Linked DNA regions of Homo sapiens. The protein of the gene in region 2 purifies or fractionates together with the protein of the main gene of each other region. This does not show direct contact. Each region holds a gene or a part of one and is shown on either strand. Other genes may lie near its edges.

Region 1 (4,144 bases), on a different chromosome or scaffold from region 2:
AACAGCTCTTCAATAGCAGAGCAGAGCTGTAAACCCACCTCTATAAGCCCTTTCCACCCCCACCACACCATATGGAATTGGTTGCTAAACTGCTTCCTTGGGTCACAGCAAATGGCATTGTGGTTACAAGACCTTCCACGTGTGCTTCAAACAATGGGGTTTTGCCTAGACTAGTGCTTAGTAGTAACTGTATCACGGAAACACGGTCAGGACTCTTGGCGTCCATCTGATCGTGGGAGACCCGTCAGCATGAGCTGGATCCCCTCGGGGCCTGTCTTTTCTTACATAAATGTTGCCTTTTGCCCTTACTTGGTTTTTATTTTGTTCCGCGACAATGGAAAACTTAATTTTTTTTTTTATTAAAAAGAAAAATCTATTCTGGCCAGGTGCAGTGGCTCACGCCTGTAATCCCAGCACTTTGGGAGGCCAAGGCAGGCGGATCACAAGGTCAGGAGATCGAGACCATCCTGGCTAACACAGTGAAACCCCGTCTCTACTAAAAATACAAAAAACTTAGCCGGGCGTGGTGGCGGGCGCCTGTAGTCCCAGCTACTCGGGAGGCTGAGGCAGGAGAATGGTGTGAACCCAGAAGGCAGAGCTTGCAGTGAGCCGAGATCACGCCACTGCACTCCAGCCTGGGCGACAAAGTGAGACTCTGTCTCAAAAAAAAAAAAAAGAAAAATCTATTCTAAGTGAAGCAGTTTTTCCCAGTAGGTGGCAGAACTAAATGCCATTATGCCATTTATAATTTTAAGTGATTAAAGAGGAGTAGTATGTAGTATATGCAAGGTCTAGCTCTAACAGCAGTGCAGTATAAATAGTAGAAACTGACCTGATATTACAGTATGAGAAACATGAAGGGGTTCTGTTTTGTGAGCTCTAAATTTATCTTCCATGTATACTTCAAGGCTCTTCTCCCCAGTAGATTTTTATTCATCTGAACTATAATTAGGTGGCCTTTTTCCATTCTGAAAATAATTGGATCAAATGCATTTTAAAGTCCAGGGTCTGAAAGGTGGAGGAATCCTTTCTCTTTACTGTTTCTAATTTAAACTCCTTTTCATTTACTAGATTTCAGTCATGTCCAGAATTCATCTTTTCTAAAAGCTTTAATCTAGATTTAGAAATCTAAAATCTTTTATTTATTTTTTTTTCGTTGAAGTGCCCTGATTTTGTTGGTGGTAAAGACTCCATTAGTATCCACTTATACATTTCCCTGACTTTGCCTCTGACCAAACCTTACAGTATTCACATTGTACTGTTGCAATAATAATAGCTAACATATTAATACGCTGAATATTTGCTGTGTGCCTAAGCTAAGGATTTAATTCTCTTAAAATCCTGTGAGGTATTTTATTTTACAGAAAAAGAAACTGCTTAAAGAAAGTAACTTATCCAGGTCACACAAGTAACAATTGCAGAGCTGGAGTTTCAGATGAGGGCTGGCTTGCGCTGCCGCTACAGAAAAGAGTGCCCTAGAAATCGGTCATCTTGCATTTCCCGATTTTAGTTTAGCCAAATGAAAAATTCCTTTTGGATTTATGAGTATAATCAGACAGTATACCTGTGAAATTAAAGTATTTGACTCTTTGCTTGAAATAAGTAGGTTAAAAAGATTTGGGTGGCCGGGCGCAGTGGCTCACGCCTGTAATCCCAGCACTTTGGGAGGCTGAGGCAAGTAGATCACTTGAGGTCAGGAGTTCGAGACCAGCCTGACCAATATGGGGAAACCTCGTCTCTACTAAAAATACAAAAATTAGCCGGGCGTGGTGGTGCATGCCTGTAATACCAGCTACTTGGAGGCTGAGGCAGGAGAATCACTTGAAGCCAGGAGGCAGAGGTTACAGTGAGCTGAGATCACGCCACTGCACTCCAGCCTGGGCAACAGAGCGCGACTCTGTCTAACAACAAAAAAGATTTGGGAAAACACTTTATTAATGAAGAGTTCCTGACAAAGTGATTTTTTTGGGGAGAATTTTTATAATTGCATTTGAATATTAGGGTGCTCCTTTTTCTCTCATTCTAAATTCACCAGAGACTTAAGCACAGAGAATTTTTATTACATGCCTGTTAATTAATGTGTATAATCAGATTTTAACTATATTTAGTGAATATTAAGATTCAGGTACAAATCAAGCCCTTTATAATTAAACATACACATTCAGAACATTTTTAAAATATTAAAACATTAAACTGCTCTTCTCACCCACTCCAAGTCAAATAGCATTTTTTCAGTCAGGTGTCTGGGAGCTCGATGCAAGATAACAAAATCTGGTCTCTGCCTCAGGGAACATGAAATCTGTTTGGGGAAGCCAGAGCAAAAATAAAGGTTTTAATAGCAAGCTCTCACTAACTGCCCCTGGAAATCCACCCCACATCCTCCAGGAAGCCTTTCTCTACCCCCAGTGCCCTCAGGAGCTTCTCCAAGGCAGGCCCTTCCCAGAGCGCAGTGTGCTCCCCAGCTCACAGAAGATGCTCCCTACACGCTGCAGGAAAGTCCAGTGCCTGCAGCACAGGCTTCAGCAGCAGACTCGGGTTCTAGTCTCAGTCTGCTGATTCCTAGTTGTGGAACCTGAGCAGGCGAAGTTACTAAACCTCTCTGTGCGTCAGCCTCCCAGGCTCGTTGCTTCAGGCCGCAGTTAGGCTGTGTGAACAGGAGAGTGGGGATGGGAACTAGGTATCTTAAAGCGGGGCAGAGTTTGGATGAGCGGGCCACCCTTCGTATAGTTAGGAGGAAGATGACGGGAGGCATGGAAGCTGGGATAGCCATCCTGAGTCAGTGCTAATTCTGACACTTCAGAACATCGAGTCAGTCTGACCTGCGAGTGAGCTTTCATTGACCACTTAGAAACTATTAGCACCTTGGACAAACTACTTTCTTTCAGACCTGGTTGCTTCATGTCTGCGATGGGAAAACTGATACTTAACTTGCAGATAGTGGTGAATCAAAAGTAGTATATGTGAAGTACTCACACACTGCGGAGCATTCAGCCATCGTCCCATCCTACTTCTACCTTTTACATATTGTAATATGAAAGCTAAACCATTTCTCGATGTGAGTCAGTTTTAATCGGCTACATAGTGAGTGGCATTCGATTTTAAAAATGTCAACTTGGGATCTGTCACCATGCTACTTACCATTTGTATGTCACACTGTTTGAATGTCGGACCTGGTTTGTTTTTCTCCAGATGGTATGTTACTTACGGTCATGAACTGATTTGGAAGAACAGGGAGCCGCTAGTGAAAATCTGGCATGAAATAAGGACTAATGGCCCCAAAAAAGGAGGTGGCTCTAAGTAAAACTGGGATTGGACAGTAGTGGTGCATCTGGTCCTTGCCGCCTGAGAGCCCCAGGAGACATCGGCTAGAGTGACCATGGCTATGCTCCCGTCTGGAAGATGCCAGCATCTGGCCTCCCACTGTTTTCAGCTGTGTCCCCCAGTCCGTGTCTTTTTAGAATGTGAATGATGATAAAGTTGTGAAATAAAGGTTTCTATCTAGTTTGTAAGCAGATGTGTGTGTTCTCTCTTTAAGGGGCCGACACGGCTCTGGCATTTTGCTTTGGTTGTTGCATTGACAGGACCTGGGGAGAGTGCACCCTGAAAGGCCTGATCAGAACATGAAGGCGCTGGTTGCCTGTCTTTGGACCCTCCAGTGCCTCTGCTTAGCCTTCACTCTTCCTTGCCTCCCCCTCCCCTGGGTTGGCTGCACATAAAAGTCGAGAGTATCCCCTCTCCAGCACAATCTGAAATAACAGCTGCAGTATTTTCTCAATTTTCAGGAAAGGTAGTGTTTTCTGGCAGTGAGTGGCATATACAAAAAGCTATTTTCAGGTTTTGCTTTCTAGGTTCAATTTGTAGATAAATTAAGAGGTAGAAAGAAGTGATTTGGGTAAATTCAGACTTGAATCTGAGCCGAATTTTATCTTCTGTTTGAAAGTGTTCTAATTGAAGCGTCTCACTGAAATAGCAGATAGTGGCTGTCGTCGTCACAGCCTCACTGTTGTGGAATTCATGTTACCCTCGTGACTGAGAATGACATCTAGGAAATGCAGTTTGAGAGTATGTTCTTCTTGAAGTCATTTACAGGAGAATTTTTAGTCTTTTGATGGCTTCAAAATGTTATACCAAGTCTTGCAGCTTT
Region 2 (7,034 bases):
TCATGCCTGTACCAAGGCTCAAACCGGGGATTGTGAACAAATTTATCCTTAAATGCAGAAATAAGTCTTTCGAAGGGATCTCTTACAATAAAAAACTTGAAGTATGTTTTCAATCTAAGGAAAAAAACGAACAAGAGGTTAACTTGATGCCACAGGAGGTCACAGCTGAGGGGGCGGGAGAGGGAAGAATGAGCGGAGTGCAGCACTGTGTATGGGACCCTCACGTGCCGAGGCTGCCATGAATGCATTCCACACGTCTCTTAATCTACTCCAAGATCCTGTGGATTAATCCTGTTATTACCACACTTTGCAGGTGAGAAAACAGAGGCTTGGAAAACCTTACCTGTCCAAGGCCACAGTACTCATTGTAGGCAGTCACTGTGAAGACATCTATTTAATCTACCTTCTGTTTTACTTGAATGATTCAAAACTTCAAGAATGTTTACAAATTTTGTTCCTGGGCAGAAAATCATAAGGGCAGGAACTCTGAGTCAGGAATAGATGGTGCCAGGGAAAGTTACTTTAAGGGCATATTTTTAAAAGTTCAATTCAAATTGCCAGGGGAAGGGGGGCAAGAGAAAACAGAGAGTCAGGCTTCACGCTCCAGAGGGCAGGAGCAGGTCTGGGTGAGCTGCAAGCGGGCGGCAGCAGAGCATGGCCCTGGGGAGGAGGGCCGGCAGCAGTGACGATGACAAAGACGATGACAACAGTGACATCACAGAACACGGTGTGATTACGACAGGCCAGAAACTGCTCTCTGTGCTTTGCCGTGTCTTCACTCACTGAGTCTCACAAAAGCCCCATGAGTGCTCAGGGCAACAGCAGGACACTCCTCACCAGGAGCATCTCTGGTAAGGGTTGTAAGGATGGGCAGGTGCCATGCAGGTCAGGCGCCATGCAAGGCAGGTGGCTGCAGACCCAGGAGGCAAAATCCAGCTGGTGACCTGACGTGAGCCGCTGCTTTTGCATCCTCACTCCTTTTCAGCCTTGCTCTCCTGGGCCACCTGAGAGCTACTACATGAGAACTTTCTCATCTATTAGCTAAGGACTCCATCTTCTTTTTTTTTTTTTTTGAGACAGAGTCTTGCTCTGTCGCCCCAGCTAGAGTACGGTGGCCAGATCTTGGCTCACTGCAACCCTTGCCTCCAGGGTTCAAGCGATTCTCCTGCTTCAGCCTCCTGAGTAGCTAGGACTACACGTGTGTGCCACCACAGCGGGCTATTTTTTTTTTTTTAGTAGAAACGGGGTTTCTGTCAGTCACACTTGTCTTGAACTCCTGACTTCAAATGATCCGCCCACCTCGGCCTCCCAAAGTGCTGGTATTACAGGCATGAGCCACTGCGCCCAGCCTGGACTCCGTCCTTGCTGCGATCAGGGGTTCCGTCTCTCTACCCTGCCCATGCTGGATGCAGCCCACACAACCACTGCAGGGGCAGCTCCCACAGCAGTGGGCACAATGCCTCTGGGAGAATCAAATACTCAGTGAGATCTCTGCAATCCAAATCCCTTTCTTATAAAGAAAAGATCATATTCAGCAAGCAATCTATAAAACTTTACCAAAGCAGAACAAAGTTGCCTGCTAATTTCTATTAACAAAATGATGTCACCTTCATGTTAATGGACTGTGTGAAGGTAAGGCTGGAAATTCTCAGAAGGAACTGAGAGTTTTGAGGCGCCGAATGGGGGGTGTAGCTTAGCTGCCTCTCACTGATGCAAACCGACAGCCCTCTGTGGTCCTCCGATCAATCTGCCAAGTACAGAACTCAGCCTGGGGTTTTCCCCAAATTTCTTCTCAGGTTTACAAAAACTCCCCCCTCCCCTTTGAGGAAGCTGTTCTCACCGCTTCTGAATTTCTGCATCACTGAAGGAAGAGAGCCGAGGAAGGCCGTTCTTCTCGTGGTCGTGCACCACGTTTTCGGGGATCTCCTCAATGGAAGAAAATGCTCCTGGGAAGTAAACGGAAAGGAAGGCAGGTTGGCTGCTCCAGTACGCCCCTTAGAGAAGGGCATGTCCTTACCTCATCTTTACCTTGGGCCTCATGTTCCCCACGTGTGCATGACAAGCCCACCCCCAATATCCAAGTTTAGGTCTTTGAATTTCAACTGCTTCTGCCAGCAGGATGAACGAGTGAAGAAAAGCTTCTGGGAATCCATAAGCCAACTAGAGGAAACTGATGATTTCAGGGAGGAGGGGGAGGGAGCAGGAGTGGAAATGCTGGCAGTGCCTACCCCTGGCAATGGACCTAACTGGGCTAAATCTGCCATTAGAGGAAGATCGCTGCATGCAAACAGAACTCCTAACACCAGCAACACTTACTCTACTCTGAGACTGGGGGAAAATGCCAGAGAAGCAGGACTTTGGAACGTCATGCTAACAGATGCCCGCAGCAGCTTCACAGCCCCATCCCATAGACAGGCTAAGCTCTCCAAGCACCACATGCCCCTGGCCCACAGTGGCTCTCAGGTACCCCAGCAGCATCCCAGGCTGGCAAAGAGCAAAGACCTTTTGATGCTGGAAAAATCTGACTAAGCTATGGGAGCTGTGATACATTTGAGACAGGAGTCAAAAGAGGACAAGGTATGTCGAGAAGGCAGGGCCGTGCCAACAGCCAGGGTCTGTCATCAGGGACCAGTGCAGGTCCAGGCTGCTGAATGGAACTTGGGCAGAGACCATCCTAGGGTTGGTGGCTGAGCAGGTTTTTCACTCTTTTCTCAATACAGACAAATGGAAATACACTGTCAGTATGCTGAGGTTTTCTCCAAGTTTCTGTAAGCCTTAATATCCATCTTTGTGTTAATCCGGTAGGGTTAAGATTGGAGTCCTGGCAGGGAAGAATCTCCCTGGGCCATCTGACCAGTGGACACAGTCTTGTCTGTTTTATTGATTCCTCCCCCGAGTGTTTAAAGCCCAGTCCAGAACTCTGCGGTACATGCTATGGATGGCTGTAAACTAGGCGTGGGGAGCACTGCTCTCAAGGGGACAATGACAGAACCAGCTCTGTGGGTCCACATATGGGCCCATTCATGCACCTGTCCCCATCCAGGTGCACTAGTGGTTACCGAAGATAGCCACAAGGACCACCCGCTTCTGTATTACATGATCCAGCAAGCCCACTCTGATTTCTATGCTGCCCTTCTAAGTGGGTGTTTACTTCTTAAAGTATGCTGCTTCACACTGTGGTGGCTGATTTGTGAGCCTTTGTATATTCCTTGTTTTCAATTCGATTTGCAGCCTCATTCTGCTTCTGAAAACCCAACATGCTATCCAATCACTGCAGAAGCACATTAATTATATGTGACAACCAGATGATGAGGTGCCACCATTCTCTCTCCCAGCCAACCCCTGCGAAGGCCAAACAGTGGCCAGGAGTGACCACCGACTCTGTGGGCAGCATCAGGAGTGGCAAGCAGGACATGGAGCCTTAGGGCCACCTACCCATGGTGCCCCAAAATCCGATTTCTGACCCAGGAGTCCCACTGCTGTTGACTGGAACTAACTCCTGTCTGAAGCTAAATTTCATAAGCAGAGCCCATAATTATTAGGATCGGTTCAGACTAATTGGAATTTAAATAAATAGACATCTCTAAAAAGAGTAGTGAGTAATCAAAACTGCAGTGTATGAGGTTACTTTGTGATGATCTAATTTGTTCCCTAGCAAACATCAGGTTTCCTGAAGCAAGCTGACTCAATCCTCTGAACACAGATGCTTAGTGTGAAATGGGGTACAATTTCTTCCTGCTCGCTGGCACAGAACGCTTGGTCTGCAGGTAAAGAGGCTCCAGGCCCCGGGCCAGGGCTCCCCTCCCAGGCTCTACAGTGTGAGCCCTTCTCACTGCAGAGAGGGTGACCGTGAGGCTTCCTGGTGGCTCTGCGAGTGTGGGGCCCTGGGGATGTCGGACAGAGTGGGTGACTATAACCATCAGCACAGGGAACCTGAAGAGACAAAGGAGGGGGGCCTGGGGGTGGGCGAGCCACCTAAAGTGAGGATCTGCTGTGACAGGTGAGGAGAGCTGGACTGTGGCTGTGCCCCTTTGAAAAGAATCGGTGTCTAAACGAGCCCCACTAACTTGTAAGGCACAACACTAACAGGAAACAACAAAAACAGGCCTGTCTGGACGGCCACCAGTCCCTTCAGGTCAAACCAGCCCTCTTGTGACTCCTCCTTGCTGTCCTCCCCAGCCTCCTCAGCACCGGCCACCAAGACCCTTCCCAGTGGACATTCAGTAGACCCACACACACCATTTAGAACAATCAGCACTTTCTTCCACTGGGTGTTGCCCACTTTGGGAGTCTGGCAGAAAAGAATCTTGTGCTTGTCACAGACAAATATTCGGTCCAGGACAAACTTGGAGACAGGAGTGTGCGAGAGATTCTTCAGGGCATCATCCCTGCAGACGTTTCTGATGAGTTCCAGGCGCTCCATGTAGACCAGGGGCTGAACGAGCTGGCTGTCTGGAAGCTCCTTCCCAGTTGGCTGCAGGTGACACAGAGCAGAAGAGGCCCAGGGACCATTAAAGGAGGCAGGACCGGGCCAAGCAGAGCCGCTCCTGCTGGTCTATCCCCTCCTTTCCATCTGGAGCCTTCTCTTCTTCCCTTCCTTGTCTGTCTACAGAGTGACACCCACTATCCCCAGCCCCTTCATGAGGCCTTCAGAGCCTCTCCACCAGCCCGATCGGCAGGCTGGGCAAGGAAAATGAATGCAAGCTTGGTTCCTCAGATCTTTGGAGAGAAGTTTGACTTTAAAAAACAAAATAAGGCCGGGCACAGTGGCTCATGTCTGTAATCCCAGCACTTTGGGAGGCCAAGGTGGGCAGATCCCAAGGTCAGGAGTTCGAGATCAGCCTGGCCAAGATAGTAAAACCCCATCTCTACTAAAAATACAAAAATTAGCTGGGTGTGGTGGTGCACACCTGTAATCCCAGCTACTTAGGAGGCTCAGGCAGGAGAATCACCTGAACCCAGGAGGTGGAGGTTGCAGTGAGCCTAAGATCGCACTACTGCACTCCAGCCTGGGCGACAGAGCAAGCAAGACTCCGTCTTGGGGGAAAAAAGAAATTAAAAACCAAAGTAAGAAGTTTGGAATCCTCTAGCTAGGGGGAAAAAGATGAAAAAGCTCAAATTCTACATGCTGGTCCATTCTTTTCAGGGCTGTTTTAGAACCTAAGAGAATACCTGTAATGTGAGAGGCCTTGTGTGTGCATGGGTTGGAGGGGGCACAGGGAGATGTGCCAGTACACACAGAAGTTGCTCAGAGGCCCCCTGTCCTCGGTGAGTTAAAGTCCCCTTGCTGCTCACACCTCCTTGTTCTCTGGAGGCATCCTGAGGGCATTCCTGAATAGCAGGGCAGCCTCCACCAACCCCATCGGCCCCCTCTAGTTGTGGCCCTGTTTCTCAGCATTTTTAAGGCTTCAGCTGCTACATCTCTCTCTCTCTCTTTTTTTTTTTTTTTTTATGAGACGGAGTCTCGTTCTGTGGCCCAGGCTGGAGTGCAGTGGCACGATCTCAGCTCACTGCAAGCTCCGCCTCCCGGGTTCCCGCCATTCTCCTGCCTCAGCCTCTCGAGTAGCTGGGACTATAGGTGCCCACCACCATGCCTGGCTAATTTTTTGTTGTATTTTTAGTAGAGACGGGGTTTCACTGTGTTAGCCAGGATGGTCTTGATCTCCTGACCTTGTGATCCGCCACCTCGGCCTCCCAAAGTGCTGGGATTACAGGCGTAAGCCACCACGCCCGGCCATATCTATCTCTTAAAGCTACACAGAACTTCCCAAAATTTCAAAGCAGATGATCCTTCCAAATAATTGTATTGAATGGACCCAAATATCCTTGTTATATCTTTTAAAATGCACTGGGCTTGCCAGGAAATCCATTTATAGGGTAGTTTTAACAACCTGTCCTCCCAGGGGACAACGTCAGTTAGAAAATGGGAAGGACATAAGACTTCTAGAACACACTAGAACCGGGACGCTGGAACTATCAGGATGACAGAGGTCCCCCCTCAGGGCCCCCCACCCAGCTCTTCCTTTATGGATCTACTGTAACCAAACTCTCTTACACTCATGACCTCTGGCCAGGATGCTTTCTCCCTTGTGTGTTTAAGTGAATTTCCTGGGATTCCCTGGTGGTGGGAAGAGCATCCTGGGGGCTACTGACTGCCTGCTTTTCGAGATGAAGACACTGGGGAAGCGAGAGGCCCCTTTGCAGAGTGGCCTCCGTTCCTCCCCACAGGGCATCAGCGGCTGCCCGGGCCCTCCACCCACCATGGAAAACCAGGAGCCACGCCAGGCACTCTCCTTGCTCTTACAAGAACGGGTCTCGTTTAACCTCATTTCCTCATCCATCCCACCTCTTGCTCACTTATCCCAAAAGAGCCTCTCTGTCTTCTCCTCCCTCTCTGTTCCAAACCTAACCCTGATCATGGATGGCACTCAAGAACAGCGCATCAGGAGAGAGCACCTCCCAACAAGTTCCCTTTAGAAAATGCAGAAAACTCTGCACTTTTAGATACTGCTTTTCTTTGAACAAAGAAAAGATATTAGATATTGCTTTTCTTTTAGCAAAGCATTAGAGACAAAAATTCTTCTTCTAAGAGACGAGGTCTTGTTCTGTCACCCAGGCTGGAGTGCAGTGGCACAATCATGACTCACTATAGCCTCCAACTCCTGGGCTCAAGTGATTCTCCCACCTCAGCCTCCCAAGTAGCTGGGGTTATAAACACACACCACCATAACCACCTGATTTTTGTATTTTGTGTAGAGATGAGGTCTCAGTATATTGCCCAGGCTGGTCTCAAACTCCTAGGCGCAATCGATTCTCCTGCCTTAGCCTCCCAAAGTGCTGGGATTATAGGCGTAAGCCACCATGCCCAGCTAAAGAAAAAAGATTTCTTGTTCAATTGTGTGTAAGAATGAGCATTGTTTTCTTTTTTCCCTTTGGAAATATACAAAGCCAACTTAAAGACAAATATTATTTTCTATTTTCCATTCAAACATTCGGCTACACCATGCACAAAGTAAACTTTTTTTCTGAGACCG
Region 3 (7,929 bases), on a different chromosome or scaffold from region 2:
GATTATTAGTCAAACATTTATAAACACAGAACTTTCATATAAAGGAGGCTTAGGCCAGGCGCAGTGGCTCACGCCTGTAATCCCAGCACTTTGGGAGGCCGAGATGGGTGGATCCCCTGAGGTCAGGAGTTCAAGACCAGCTTGGCCAAAACAGTGAAACCACATCTCTACTAAAAATCCTTAAAAAATTAGCTGGTGTGGTGGTAGGCGCCTGTAATCCCAGCTACTCGGGAGGCTGAGGCAGAGAATTGCTTGAACCTGGGAGGCAGAGGTTGCAGTGAGCCGAGACTGCACCACTGCACTCCAGCCTGGGCAACAGAGCGAGACTCCGTCAGGAGGCTTTCTTTCAGAACAACTAACCGAAAAATCATGCAAATTTAGAGTGAAAAAATGTAAAATAAGAAATTTAAAGCATTACAAGATTAATTTTAATGTAACTGGTCAGTTTGCACATCTGTAAAATGACAGTTTGAAACTAAGTGATTTCTAACATCCGGTCTACTTCAAAGTCTAAAATTCTATGATACGCAAATTTCTTAAACTTTGAGTTAAATATACTAGGTTGTTTAAAAACTAAATCTAAGCTTATTCTGATAATTCAAATAACCCTGAAATGTTAGAATATCAATATCCCATAAACGATTCAGCAGTACTGTTTTCAGACTTCCAGTTAGTATGTGTCCAGAACAAATAAAGAGCAAAAATAGCTATTTTCTCTTACTTTGACTGCTAATACTAATAGCATACAAAATAGCTACTCACTGAGAAGGCATCATAAAAGGCTCTATTGTTACAGAATCCTAAAAGTCTCACGAAAATAAGAGAAACATCATCAGCTAACATCACCAGGCCAAACACAGCTCATTGAAAATCTTAAATTCTGAAATATTTAGATTAAATGAAAACTTCGAGATATTTATCTGTTACGCAAAACAGGTAGCACTGCTTCACAATCTGAACATCACCGTATAGCTCCTTTGGTTAAACAGAAAAAAACTTCCCATGGTACTCTTTCCTCCTAATTCTGCCATTCTTACTATGCACAATGCGTATTTTCCATGTACTGTAAGAGAGATGCACTACACAGAAGTATCCATGGGGACGAAATTTTATCTACACTGAAATTTAATGTGGGATAAGTAAGCTTATCATAATGGAGTTTTACACAGAATGTGTATTTCTCAATGTAAAATGATTTTGTGAAGTAAAGGGGGAAAAAATAGAGGAAGTTTGTTTCCTTAGAATCTCCACAATTACGCACTTTATTCTTAAAATAAGGGACTGGTCTGCAGGATTAACAAATCTTACAGTTCAAAGACAGATAAACATTGGAAGGCCAAAAGAAGTAAGCAAAATAAAAACGATTACCATTAAAAACTCTTCCCTTGGCAGTTTTCAGAGAGGGTTAAAAAAAAAAAAAATTTTCCTGATTGTCAGGCTGACCCTGCTGTCATATTTGCCATTTTTATAAACCCACTAGTTTGATCAAGAGCCCTATCTTTAAGAATAACTTTTAAACCATGCATTTTTAGAGTTAATGAGGCAATAACACTATAGTATTACAGTTGTAGCTCAACAACTGTTAGATACTACAGATTAGTGATCCAGAAGATAATCAAACTTTATCAGCAAAGTAGCAACCACACCCCTTAAAAACAGAACTCACCCTGTGCTCCATTAACTTCCATAAAGGGAACTTCGATGAAAATCGATTACTTCATTGCTTGGAACTAGCATGTTTGTTTTGGAATTACACTAACGTTTTGTAAACACTGTCTCACGGTAAAGCTAATGACTTTACCTCTTTCTGAAACAGTTTTAGGGAAGAAGGCACCATATATTACGGTGAAACTGGGTCTTAGTTTACATAGCGATTATTTAAAAAATTCACTTCCACTGTGCATTACAAGAATTAAAGCCGTTTAAAAAACTCAACCAAAGCCCAATGACAATGTATTACTCTAGGAAAAGTGTGTCCTTTGGGTTCTAAGGCATTAAATTGGAATTTAATATTAAAATAGAATTCAACGGCTAAGTATCCAGTTTCCCCCAATCACTTAATTTTTCAAAACCCAGAAAGGGCCTGTTTGCGAGTATTGTGAAAACCTGTGGAAAGAGAGGCTTTGGAGGGGAACGGTCGAATTAAAATAAATGCAGAGAGCAAAGAGAACTCCGAGTTCTTTGAACTCCCCCAGGCTGAACAGGACGAGAAGGAACCCTACCTGCCAGCGGCCATAGGTGAGGAGGACCATAGAAATGGGGATGGCGGTGCCGGACATGGCATGGGTGGAGGGCATGCTGTACTCAGAGTTGTAGAAGACCTCCAACTTGACCACGGGCGGCGAGGCGGGCCTCGGCCAGCGGATGATGTCCTTGGTGCACTGGCCCAGGTACATGACCAGCACCCAGATGACCACGAGCCTCCGGCCCACCAGAGGGTCCAGGTTCCAGATCCAGAAGGGGAAGAACAGGATGTAGAAGAGTTCGTTGCCCAGCTCCGTGCCGAAGCAGAACAGGCAGTAGAGCGGCCAGTTGCTCACGCGGGCCAGCTGGCCCTCCTCGCCCGTCAGCGAGTTGCGGCGCAGAGCGCCCGCGCGCCGCGGCGAGGCCGGGCCCAGCTCGGCCGCCAGCCCGTTCCGCACGCCGTTGGGGGCGCCGCCGCCGTCCGGCTTGGCCGGGCACTGATTGCGGTCGCTCCCGGGAGGCTGGGGGCCTCCAGGCGCCCCTGGCTGCCGCCCTCGCAGTCGAGGGTCTCCGGCGAGAGGCGCCTCCGCTTTCTCATCCTCCCTCCGGTCTGCTGAGCGGCGCGGCGGCGCTTCCACCCCGCACAGCCGCTGGAAACGGGCCACTTTCTGCGGGTCCTGCAGACGGCCAACCAGCTGGGCCAGGCGCTGCCTCAGCGACATGATAACGGAACCCCCGGGAAGGCGGGCCGGCCTCCGGCGCAGCCCCGAACTGTCCCCGCGCTCCTGGCCAGCGGCAGCGGAACCGGCACAGCGCTCTACCCTCCGGAGTCTGCCGGGTGACGGCGCCACAGGCCGCGCGCCCCCGCCCCGCGCGCGCCGCGCCCCGCCCCGCCCAGCCCCGCCCCCACCCGGGCTCCCTGAGGGGCCGGGCCGCGCGGGTCCGCCCTGAGCGCATCCGGCCGTGGCTTGGCGCTGAGGATCGGCGGGCGGCCGCTTTGAGGTCCCGGGTAATATCCACCAGCAGGCGTCGCGGCGTACGTCTGGTGGGACGCGGCGTGTCCCCCTGCTCCACCTTCAGCCCTTCTTCTCCGCGGGCTAGTGTCGCCGGATTCCCTCAGCCAGAAGTTGACTTAAAGAGGCCACGATCCCGGTGCCAGCTTGCGCAATGCCTGTGACCAAGCAGCCGGGCATCCTGCTGGCACAGAACCAAATGGTGAATGATCAATGAAGGCGAAGCAACTACCATGAGTTCGGAATCATTCGACTCAAGTAATTAACAAGTAATTACAGAGCTGTCCCAGGCGACTGATGTTCGGAAAACCATGTGCCAATTGACCAGTGGTGACAAGACTACATGTAGATCCCAAGACAGGGCCAGGTGATATTAACAGGTGTGGTCTGCAAAAGAAAAGCCAGCCACCTACAAATTCAAAATACTGTGTCATTTATCAAATATTTTGGTATATGTTAAGGGAGCACAGGTGTTCTTAAGTGTAAAATTTCCTTTTCCTAGATTCTAATACCTAGAGGGCTTGCACAGAATAAATGTAGAGAATGAATGCAGTGTATAGATTTTTGAGTTTGGTAACGTTAATTTAGACGCTTAACTTCCGTGTCTCACAAGTTACCAACTTGACTTCTAGCTAGAGCAGTTTATAAGGTCTCTGAACTCCTCAGGTCAGGTGAATGTCTTTTATATATACCTAGAGAGAGAGAGATGAGACAGGGTCTCGCTATATTGCCCAGGCTGGTCTCCAACTCCTGGGCTGAAGTGATTCTCCTGCCTTGGCCTCTCAAAGTGCTGTGTTTACAGGCGTGAGCCACCACACCCGCCATGATCAGGTGAATGTCTGTAATTAAAGAATGTGAACTACTTCCAAGAAACAGGCTTGAAATTGTCCCATGCCCTTAAAACAGTAGAAATACTTTCCTTCAGGCGTGGTAGTTCATGCCTATAATCTCAGCACTTTGGGAGGTCGAGGAGGGAGGATGGCTTGAGTCCAGGAGTTTGACAACAGCCTGGGCAACATAGGGAGATCCCACCTCTACAAAAAATGAACAAAATTAGCCGGGCAGGGCTGGGCACAGTGGCTCACGCCTGTAACCCCAACACTTTGGGAGGCCAAGGCGGGCGGATCACCTGAGGTCGGGAGTTCAAGACCGGCCTGACCCACATGGAGAAACCCCGTCTCCACTAAAAATACAAAATTAGCCGGGCGGGGTGGTGCATGCCTGTAATCCCAGCTACTCGGAGGCTGAGGCAGGAGAATTGCTTGAACCAGGGAGGCAGAGGTTGCGGTGAGCCGAGATCGCGCCATTGCACTCCAGCCTGGGCAACAAGAGTGAAACTCTGTCTCAAAAAAAAAAAAAGAAAATTAACCGGGCATGGTGGCCCACACCTGTAGTCCCAGATAACTGGGGGACTGAGGCGGGAGGATTATTTAAGCCCGGGAGGTCAAGGCTGCGGTGAGCCCTGATTGTGCCATTGCAATTCCAGCCTGGGTAACAGAGTAAGACCCTATCTTAAAAAAAAAAAAAAAAAAAAAATTTCATTTCGCAGGGACAGGTACTCTCCTCCTCCCACTCCACTTGCTAGGCTGTGGCCATAGAAAGAGGAATAAATCATCACCCATGCTCTCAAGTTGTTCACAGTTTAGGGGAGATAAAGAAAGACAGGACTACTTCTAGAGTATAGAGAAGATGGCAAGTGTAAAACAGACATAAACAGCATGCCTCAGAAAGGAGGACAAGTTTGACTAGGAACAGGAAGAAAGGTGTTAGGAGGTGATCCTGTAGAGCTGGATTGTTTTACAGAGCAAAATATGAATAGGTGAAGAAGCCCATTTTAGGAAGAGAAAGTGAAGGAAGATAGGGATATGCAAAAATGTATTTGGTAAACAATAGTCCATAGAGACCAGGTGCAGTGGCTCACTCCTTTGATCCCAGCACTTTGGGAAGCTGAGGTGGGAGGATCACTTGAGGTCAGTAGTTTGACACCAGCCTAGGCAACATGGCAAGACCCTGACTCTACAAAAATATTTTCTAAAAAATTAGGTGGGGGGCTGGTGCAGTGGCTCATGCCTGTAATCCCAGCACTTTGGGAGGCCAAGGCTGGTGGATCACTTGAGGTCAGGAGTTTGAGACCAGCCTGGCCAACATGGTGAAACCCCATCTCTACTGAAAATACAAAAATTAGCCAGGCATGGTGGCAGGTGCCTGTAATCCCAGCTACACGGGAGGCTGAGGCAGGAGAATGGCTTGAACCTGGGAGGTGGCAGTTGCAGTGAGCCAACATTGTGCCTCTGCACTCCAGCCTGGGCAATAGAGCTAGACTCAGACTAAAAATAAAGAAAAATAAAAAAATTAGCTGAGTGTGATGGCACATGCCTGTAGCCCTAGCTACTTTTAAGGCTGAGGTGGGAGGATTGCTTGAGCCCAGGAGTTAGAGGTTACGGGGTGCTACGATTGTACCACTGCACTCCAGCCTGAGCAGCAGAGTAAGACCTTGTCTCAAACAGTAAAAATTAAAAAATGAAAAAAAAAACCAAAAAACAATAGCATATAGCATAGAGTAGCAAGGGTGATTGGAAATGGGATTACAAAGGGAGGATAGGATTAGGTTGTAAATCCTTGAATACCAAAGGGATTTAATTTTGTAGGCAGTGGGAGCCATGGAAGGCTTTTAGGCTAGGGAGTGACACCATCAGAACTGTGTTTTAGAAAGATAACTGGGAAAGAAATCAAAGACGATTGTCAGAGGTCAGAGAGTGAAGGCTAGGTAAATAATTAGAAGATTATTGCAGTCATCAGGTGAGAAACAATGACAGCCTGAACTAGGACCTTGGTTCTGGGGGATTGGAAGCGGGGGATAGATTTGAATGAAATTTTGGAACTAGGAAAAAATTAAAATGTTTCATTTGAATTCATAGGACTGCAGGCAAATATTAGTCTGTTCCTGGTTAGAACAAACTTGTGTCTAATTTCTTTTTTTTTTTTTCTTTTTTGAGACGGAGCCTTGCTCTGTCACCAGGCTGGAGCATGGTGGTGTGATCTCAGCTCACTGCAACCTCTGCCTCCTGGGTTCAAGCGATTCTCCTGCCTCAGCCTCCTGAGTAGCTGGGACTACAGATGCCTGCCACCACACCCAGCTAATTTTTTGTATTTTTAGTACAGACAGGGTTTCACTGTGTTAGCCAGGATGGTCTCAATCTCTTGACCTCGTGATCCGCCTGCCTTGGCCTCCCAAAGTGCTGGGATTACAGGCATGAGCCACCGAGCCTGGCCAACCCTTGTATCTAATATTGAAGCATTAGCAATGTAGTGAAGGAGAGAAAACATGAGAAAAAGATACAAATATATTCAAAGAAGGTGTAAAGCCAGGTATACTAAACAGCTCTGGAAAAATGAGACATAAAGTAATCACTCTGTGGAGTAAGCAGAGAGGTGGCATTGGATTCTCTATGAATGGTTCTGTGAAACAGATGATTCGTTGGCATTTGAAGACAAGGAGCATCTTGGTTTATAGAGAGAAGGGGAGAACAGCATCAGGCTGAGGGATTGTGTATGTGCTTTTCTGTCAAAATAATTTGATTACAAGGGAATTATTCAGATTCATCTGAGGAATTTCCTGGTCTAGGGTCTGTTTATCCCAGAGATGGCAGAGGAAGAGGAAAGTATGTAAAACAAAGTAGAGGTGATCATTAGATCCCATGGCTGCATTATGAGTCCTTTAGCGCTGGTATATTTTGTCAGAATGCAATATCCCCTTTAACAGTAATGGGAACAAAGGTGATGGAGAAATGGAAATTTGACCTATAACTGCACTAAACAGGAAAAATAATACAAGCTGACAAAACTTGAAGGAGCTGACACTGGTGCAATAAATCATTGTTAATGAGAGGGACAAGGTCTTACCTACATACCAAAGAGCCATGGTATAAAGAATAGTAGTTTTGGTGGTTTCTACCCACATTCCCTCTGAAATTTTCCTAATAGAATATCTTAAAATTTAATAGAAATTTAACTATAGGCCAGGCACAGTGGGTCATGCCTGTAATCCCAAAATTTTGGGAGGCCAAGGCAGGAGGATTGCTTGAGGCCAGGAGGTCAAGACCAGCCTGGGCAATGTGGTGAGACCCTGCCTCTAAGAAAAAGAAAAAAGTAAAAAGAAAACAAAAAAATTTAACTATATTAAAAGATTCAAATATAAACATTCTATGGCAAGTATTTTTATCACAAAGCATACAATTTTAATTTTTTAAATTTTTGTTTATTTTCTGCATTCTCTCAGAATGTGAATAAACATTTTTTTGAAGAAAAAATATTGCTGCCAAGTAGGGATATACTACCTGGGTATGATTCAGTGTCTTTCCTGCAAAGCCAAATAAAGATATCGTGTGATATGAGAACTGTATCATATCCATGCTTCATAATTAACATGTTGATTTTCTTATATCCTTCTCTGTACTTGACTTTATTTTTATTTTTATTTTTATTTGAGATGGAGTCTTGCTCTTTCGCCCAGGCTGGAGTGCAGTGGCGTGATCTCGGCTCACTGCAACCTCTACCTCCTGGGTTCAAGCAATTCTCCTGCCTCAGCCTCCCGAGTAGCTGGGATTACAGGCATGTGCCACCACGCCTGGCTAATTTTTGTATTTTTAGCAGAGACGGGGTTTCACCATGTTGGCCAGGCTGGTCTTGAACTCCTGACCTCATGATCCACCCACCTTGGCCTCCCAAAGTA
Region 4 (6,701 bases), on a different chromosome or scaffold from region 2:
AGGGAAAAAGTATGAGAAGTGAAGTAAAGTGGTTTGATAAATTACAATGGAAAGAAACACATGAAAGTCTCTCTCTAGGGCTTATGATGATTTTATAGGAGGTACAGTGAGCAGAAAAACTCTCCCTCTGTGAGCTGGGCACGCGGCCCTGATCCTAGCATTGCTGCTGCTTAACCATGTGGTCACGGACGACTGACTTCATTCTCCTGGCTTTAGTTCACAGTTCTGTTCAATGAGGAGGTGGCAAGACCTTCCTGTCCCAACCCTTATTTCCTCTTTGTCTCTAAAGTGGACTCCCATTAAGGAAGAGAGCTGATGGAAACCTCCTTAGGAACTGGGAATTTGAGTTGCAATATTTCATTGATTTTTGTTGTTGTTGTTTCAAATTAAGAGTCCATTCACTTTCAGCTTTCCACAAGAGAAATTAATATGGCCATGCTTGCCTATCCAAACTCCATAAGGAAGCAGCTGCTTTCCCATTTCTCCTAGCCATATGCCTTCAGAATTAAACACAGACAAAACTGGGATTTTAGTTAGTCTTTAATATAACTCCAACTTTTTAATGGTAAACAAAGATGTAAGTACAAAACATCAAAATACGTTATCAGTAGTTCTAAACAGCCATAGTAGTCACAGTGCCAGAAGTGAGGTCACTCACATTTTAAGGAAATATAATTCACTCTATTTCAGTGGAATCCATGTTCTGGCAGTTGGAAGGCAAAGGTGAGGCTTACTTTGTGCAAAATGTATTCACTTTATTCGAAAGCAGCTTTCTTTTCTGTCCCTTGCTTGGCATTTTAAAGAACCTGTTCATTTTCCTTTTTTGTTAAAAGTGCTCTAAGAACTAAAAGGGCCGTTCCTTACTGGAATAAAATTAACTACACATGCCATACATTTCTGGGTCAATGTTGCTGGTTAAATTCCCTCAGAATTAGCAATTCATAGAAAATTAATTGTTAAGTTATCGCACTTTCATGCCAAAAGTACAATTTAGAGTTCACAATACAAGGCTCTGTGGTATAAAGTGCCTATGAGCAGCTTCCCATCATACACTGAGGCTACAGAACTTCCTTGGAGAACAGACCCATTGTTGGCATAAACTGTAGTCACTGTAGGCTTCTCAGATAGAATGTTCTGGATGCGGAGAACCTATTCAGGGGATACAAAGTATGAATATAAGACCACCGTACATGCATGTCACTCAATCATCAATAAGCCCTGTTTTCCACAATGACACACTGATTAAGGGGACATGCTGTTGAAAATAGCAGTTACCAATCTTTTTAATGTTTAAATTAAAGTACTTTCTCCAATCTTCAAAGAAAGTACTTTCTTAAAACCATCTAGTTATTCCATGCCAACACAGGATTTAGTGTTATTATAGCAATTCAGCTTTAATAGAAATACTTTCATACTAATGTGCCTACTTTCACACTACTTCAACATGAACAAATATCACATCATGTGGTGAGCTGACAATAAATCAGATATTTTAAAAATTGCCAGTATACCACCCAAGAAGGGCACATGTCTTTATAAAAATGCCTTTTGACTAGTTTCCACCATAATTTAATACATCAAAAGATTACCTTTCTTAAAGTATTTGAACAATGTAACATTCTGCCAATTATTGGCTTAACGCAATTACAAAACCACGACATAAGCTTATTATATTATTGCTTTAAAATAACTAAACAAATCATCCCTGTGACAATTTATTGTATTATTAGTTCAAAAGGACTTGAATAATTAAGTTTAAAAAACTGAAAATATAAAAACCTCTGACGAGGGAGGATTGTTCGGGTCATACACGAAGAGCTTCTGGCCATTAGGATGACAGCCTACCCAGATGTCCCCCGAGGAAGGATCAATAGATAAATTATCCACCAGTGTATCCAGCTCAAGTACCTTCCAAATGAGAAATTGTCAAAATCTAAATGACATGAGAAACTTGATTAAATAATTTAGAGGTAACCTTCCTGCCTCTATGCATGTGAGGAAATTACACATCGCCCTGCTTCCACCTTCTAACACCAATATTGCTTAAAAGGAATGTATTAAAAACTGGTTTGGAGCCACTTTTCTTCTTCCCTGAAATTAAGAAAGTTAGGGTGATAATCGGTCTCTGTAAAAATCTATCTTAAAAACTGAACTCCTTTTCCTTTAAAAGATGCACAATGATCAGTTAGCTCAAGGAACTCAATCAAAGCAAGATAGGAAATTCTTAATCAACCTAAAATATGTGTTGTTGAGTAGGAAGAAAATAATAATGGTGTGGAACCCAATTTCTACCTTCATGTATTATTGAAAGAACTGACACTGTGCATAAACCTTCATTTGAGAATTCATCTATTAGTATTTTCAATTGTGAAAATTCTTATTGGAATTCTTCCACTGCCATCAATACTTCATGGAATGGGCCCTAAATCTGATGAATATCACTCTCAACCTGCTGCTGCATGTAATCATGGTCAGTTCTTGAGATCGCTGGAAACAGGAGCTTTCTCTAGTTGTAGGGAGTATTTAAAAACCCAGAATAGCTACACTGGCATCCATATTTTGTTCTACGTGTGGTACTCTTATAGAAAAACTATGTCATTGCAAAGCATAATAGATTACTGTCTATATGTAAAAATAAATATTTTACCTTCAACTGAGTTAAATTCATATTAGTGTGTTTTTCCAAAACATGAATTTCATGAGCCAATATGTCAGCAACATAGATATACCTTTGCAGAAAGGACACAGTGGTTAGAGCTCCATGCCAATATAAAGCTTCATTAATACAGTGTGAAAGAATAAGTCTTAATAACCTGCCAAGAAGTTAATCAATCATGGGCCCTCAAGGAATGCTTGATAAAGGTCAATTTTTATTTAAAAAGTAAGCTTTCAGAATCAATTCAGTGGTGCTACAACAATCATGGAATTATTAAATTGTTTTTCAAAAAGCTTGTAAGGAAAAATAATATAGAACATCATTTTGAATATGAAGTCCATATTTGCCACTGAAATGACAATAAAACAAATGCTTGGCTTCAGAAGAAAAGCTTTTACATTCCACAATATAATTTGATACTTCTAATTATCATGTACATATAGAAATATATGGTAAAGAACATCTTATTAAAATAGTGATCATTCCTTAATATTCAATAAAATATTTATTAATACATAGCGAATTTTAAGAGTAAGAGATAAGTATCAATGCAGAATAATCTGTCTACTTCAAAGGTGAGTGAATTAACAGACTATTTTGAGGTAATTTTACTCATTGAATTGACTTTCCATGGCACCTGCTCTGTTGAGCAATTATGTGTGAAAAGCCATGAACTCAGTGTTGCAGCAGATATAAACATGAAGAAGACACAGCCTCTCTCCTTGAAAGTTTATAGTGTGTTGGAACAAATCTCACTGGTTTGTACACATTAAACACCTAATAAGCATGAGAAATAGTTCAGGTCTAGAAATAGCTAACTTCCGAGGACACAGAAAGGCTCACCAAGGAAGGGGCATCTGCAGTGGCTGTGTAAAGAGAGATGAGATTTGAGATGAGGACGGAGGAGGCACTTCCCAGGCAGAAGCAAGCACAAGAGCAGAATCACAGGAGCAAGAAGAGGAAGGAATGTTTAAAACAATGAGTTCTTTGTCTAAAGCATAGAAAGCATGGAAATAGTAGAAAAGGGAGGTTGGAGGTGGCCTGTTAAACAAAGTCCAACCCTTTACCCTGCCTTGATTTGATAAGCAATTGGATTCCACTGAAATCTTAGAATAATAAAGTGGCAACAAATGGTCAGTTCTGTTCCACAATTCCTGAGCATTTGCTTTGTGCCTGGCACTGTACTGGCATAAGGAGTCAAAGGTGAGGAAGACAGAGTTCCCTCTTTGGGGAGCCCTTCAAGGCTAATAGAGATAGACAGACAAAATTGGCAAGAGTGAAAAAAATCCAAGTAGACAGAAAACAAATTGGAAGAAAGTCTCATATGCTAGTCAGAGAGGATGACAACCTAAATTAGGCAGGTCTCACTCAAAGGGAAAGGAGTTTGGGGGTAGAGGAAGGAGGCACAGGTAGAACCAACAGGACCTGCCTACAGGCTGGATAGGAATGGTGAAAGAGGAGTAAAAGCTGATTCTCCCTTTTCATTATTGTTATTTTTTTGTTAGCTTGGGTGATTGGAAAGTTTGACTCTCATAATGGAAATATAAGAGTGAAAAACAGATTTGGCTGCAGAGGTTGGATCAGGTCAGTTAGAGACAATTTAAATTAAATGATTCTACATTCTTTTTCTATAGTCAACAAGAAAGGAGGAGAAATTGGATTACAAAAATAAGGGCATTTAGTTGTCAAGGAGTGCCAAATTTATTTTATGTTGTATTTGTAGTAGTTTAAATTTTTCAGTGTGCTGAGGCAGTAGATAAGAAAGCTATCAAGAATTTAATATCTTCTCTTATAGGTTGTGGTTGTGCATATAAAAATAATGAGATAATTCTGGAGGACAATTTGGCAATATCTATTAAAGTTAACATTTAAAAGAATCACACTGTTTGAGCAAATAGTTCTATTTCTAGGGGTCTGTTCTACAGAAAAGTAGCTCATAGAACCATTTAGCCAGTGCCCTGGGTGGGATTTGAACCCAGGCCTGTATGAGTCCAAAATCTGCAAGTTTAACCATTATGTTATAATACTCTCTTAGAGCCAGGTGTGGTGGCATATGCCTGTAATCCCAGCACTTCGGGAGGCTGAGGTGGGCGGATCACCTGAGGTTGGAGGTTCAAGACTAGCCTGACCAACATGGAGAAACCTCATCTCTACTAAAAATACAAAATTAGCCAAGCATGGTGGCGCATGCCTATAATCCCAGCTACTTGGGAGGCTGAGGCAGGAGAATCACTTGAACCCAGGAGGCGGAGGTTGAGGTGAGCTGAGATCATGCCATTGCACTCCAGCCTGGGCGACGGAGTGAGACTCCATCTCCAAAAAACAAAACAAAAAAAAAACACTCTCCTAGGGACTTTTTCTTTAAAAAAAATACTTGTTTAAAATTCCATGGTAAATAAGAAGTATAAAATATTTTTTATGTAGAACTCCCCACCCCTATACACATATCCATCAATAGAGAATTGGTTAAATTAGTTTAAGATCATCCTTATAATGGAATAATGTATAGCCAATAAAAATAATACATTTATTTAAAAGGAAATACCTGATACTTCAATATGTATGCATCAGTATGATCACACTTTAAAATTTATATTTATAAAATTAAATTTGACAATGATGTATTCCAAACTTTATATATTATATATAAATACATATATATTACTGTATTATATAGTTTACTTAAATATGGTATTGTATTTGCATATAAATACATGTGACTAAGTATATGTAAATATATATACAAAACATATATAATTATATATATAGTGTATCTATATATTATATGTATAATATACCATAAATGTCAAGAAAACTATTTTCACATTGACAAAGAAAGCAAAGTAAAGAATTTGGCCAGCACCACAACTGAAGAAAAATGAAGATATTCTATAAGGGGCCATACTTATCATCAGGTGAAATATTGATCCCATTTGCTGAATCAAATCCTTCTGCTACCACTTTAACTTCATTTGGACTGTAGTAAACAACATTTGCCCAGTGTAAGTTCAAGTATGTTTCTAAATACTTTAAGAAAGGATCAGAGAAGTAGTGGTCATTTGTGGCATAGAAATGTGCCGGTCCAACAGCTGTGATGTCATTCACACTGAAAAAGAAAAATAGCATGTGAGAGGAAACAAAAGGCCTGTTGGTCTCCATATTAAATATTAAGTACTCATAAGATTTATGCAACATGTGCTTTAAATTTTTGGTAAGAGGAAAAGACGAGCTAAAAATCACGACTATAGTCATATACAATATACTATAATATTGTTGCCAGAGAACAATTTTGTATGGTACCAGGTAATCTGAACACAGGTCATTTAGCAATTATGGCAGGATTACCATAAGAGAAGAAAGAACTTAGTGCCATCAGGGCATGTTTTTTGACAGCAAGAAATGTAGGGTTTAACAATTATACGTAAGGACAGAGCTGTCCACAGTACAGAGCTGGAGAGAGCCTGATTGGCTGGTGAGCTGGTTAGGCAGTCAGTAACATTTACCTAGCTTCCATTTACTCAGTTCCTGGATTTTTCTAATTTCCCTGGCTTAGTTATTAGTCAAACTAAGGTTGACTGTTCAATTTCTACCTGCTTCACAAAGCTGACATGCCGAGAATGAACAGGCACTCAATAAACACTTGCAGAGAGATGGATGATAAAATTGCCATAGTACAATGCTTCAGGTGAGAGATTTATATGCTAAAAACAATTTCATTTTAAGACCAGTTAGGTGAGGGTGTTATTAAATTTAAATTCCAATTACTCTATGCAAAAATTTCTGAAAGAGCTGCTTTATTCTTTGCTAAATGAAAAATATAGAGCTACAGGGAAGGTAGGTCTCATTTTTCTGAAAGAGCACCATAATGCTTGGATGGTATTTATGCTCCTATTTTTTTTTATCAAGTGCATTTTTGGAAGGAATGATTGGAAGTTACATGCTTATGCCCTAGATAGGCATAGATAGGCCCTAGATAGGCAATATTTTTAATTTCATTAGAAATGAAATTTCATTAGAAATTAAAAATATTCATCAAGTTTAAACT

What was found.
Region 1: the proteins of CHST10 (region 2) and PARL purify together in Homo sapiens (affinity purification with mass spectrometry; 3 studies listed by BioGRID and IntAct, with this or other methods). This does not show direct contact.
Region 3: the proteins of CHST10 (region 2) and SGPP1 purify together in Homo sapiens (affinity purification with mass spectrometry; 2 studies listed by BioGRID and IntAct, with this or other methods). This does not show direct contact.
Region 4: the proteins of CHST10 (region 2) and PON2 purify together in Homo sapiens (affinity purification with mass spectrometry; 3 studies listed by BioGRID and IntAct, with this or other methods). This does not show direct contact.

What each region holds. Positions count from the first base shown.
Region 1 is NC_000003.12:183,828,755-183,832,898, reverse strand, and holds the end of PARL (presenilin-associated rhomboid-like protein, mitochondrial isoform 1 precursor), read left to right. Parts: intron 1-3,189; coding exon 3,190-3,301; 3' UTR 3,302-3,628; downstream 3,629-4,144. UniProt on the Homo sapiens protein: Required for the control of apoptosis during postnatal growth. Essential for proteolytic processing of an antiapoptotic form of OPA1 which prevents the release of mitochondrial cytochrome c in response to intrinsic apoptotic signals.
Region 2 is NC_000002.12:100,393,669-100,400,702, forward strand, and holds part of CHST10 (carbohydrate sulfotransferase 10), read right to left. Parts: intron 4,475-7,034; coding exon 4,240-4,474; intron 1,947-4,239; coding exon 1,841-1,946; intron 115-1,840; coding exon 1-114. UniProt on the Homo sapiens protein: Catalyzes the transfer of sulfate from 3'-phosphoadenylyl sulfate (PAPS) to position 3 of terminal glucuronic acid of both protein- and lipid-linked oligosaccharides.
Region 3 is NC_000014.9:63,725,039-63,732,967, forward strand, and holds the start of SGPP1 (sphingosine-1-phosphate phosphatase 1), read right to left. Parts: upstream 3,028-7,929; 5' UTR 2,907-3,027; coding exon 2,223-2,906; intron 1-2,222.
Region 4 is NC_000007.14:95,404,340-95,411,040, forward strand, and holds the end of PON2 (serum paraoxonase/arylesterase 2), read right to left. Parts: intron 5,763-6,701; coding exon 5,562-5,762; intron 2,730-5,561; coding exon 2,648-2,729; intron 1,909-2,647; coding exon 1,780-1,908; intron 1,150-1,779; coding exon 991-1,149; 3' UTR 523-990; downstream 1-522. UniProt on the Homo sapiens protein: Capable of hydrolyzing lactones and a number of aromatic carboxylic acid esters. Has antioxidant activity. Is not associated with high density lipoprotein.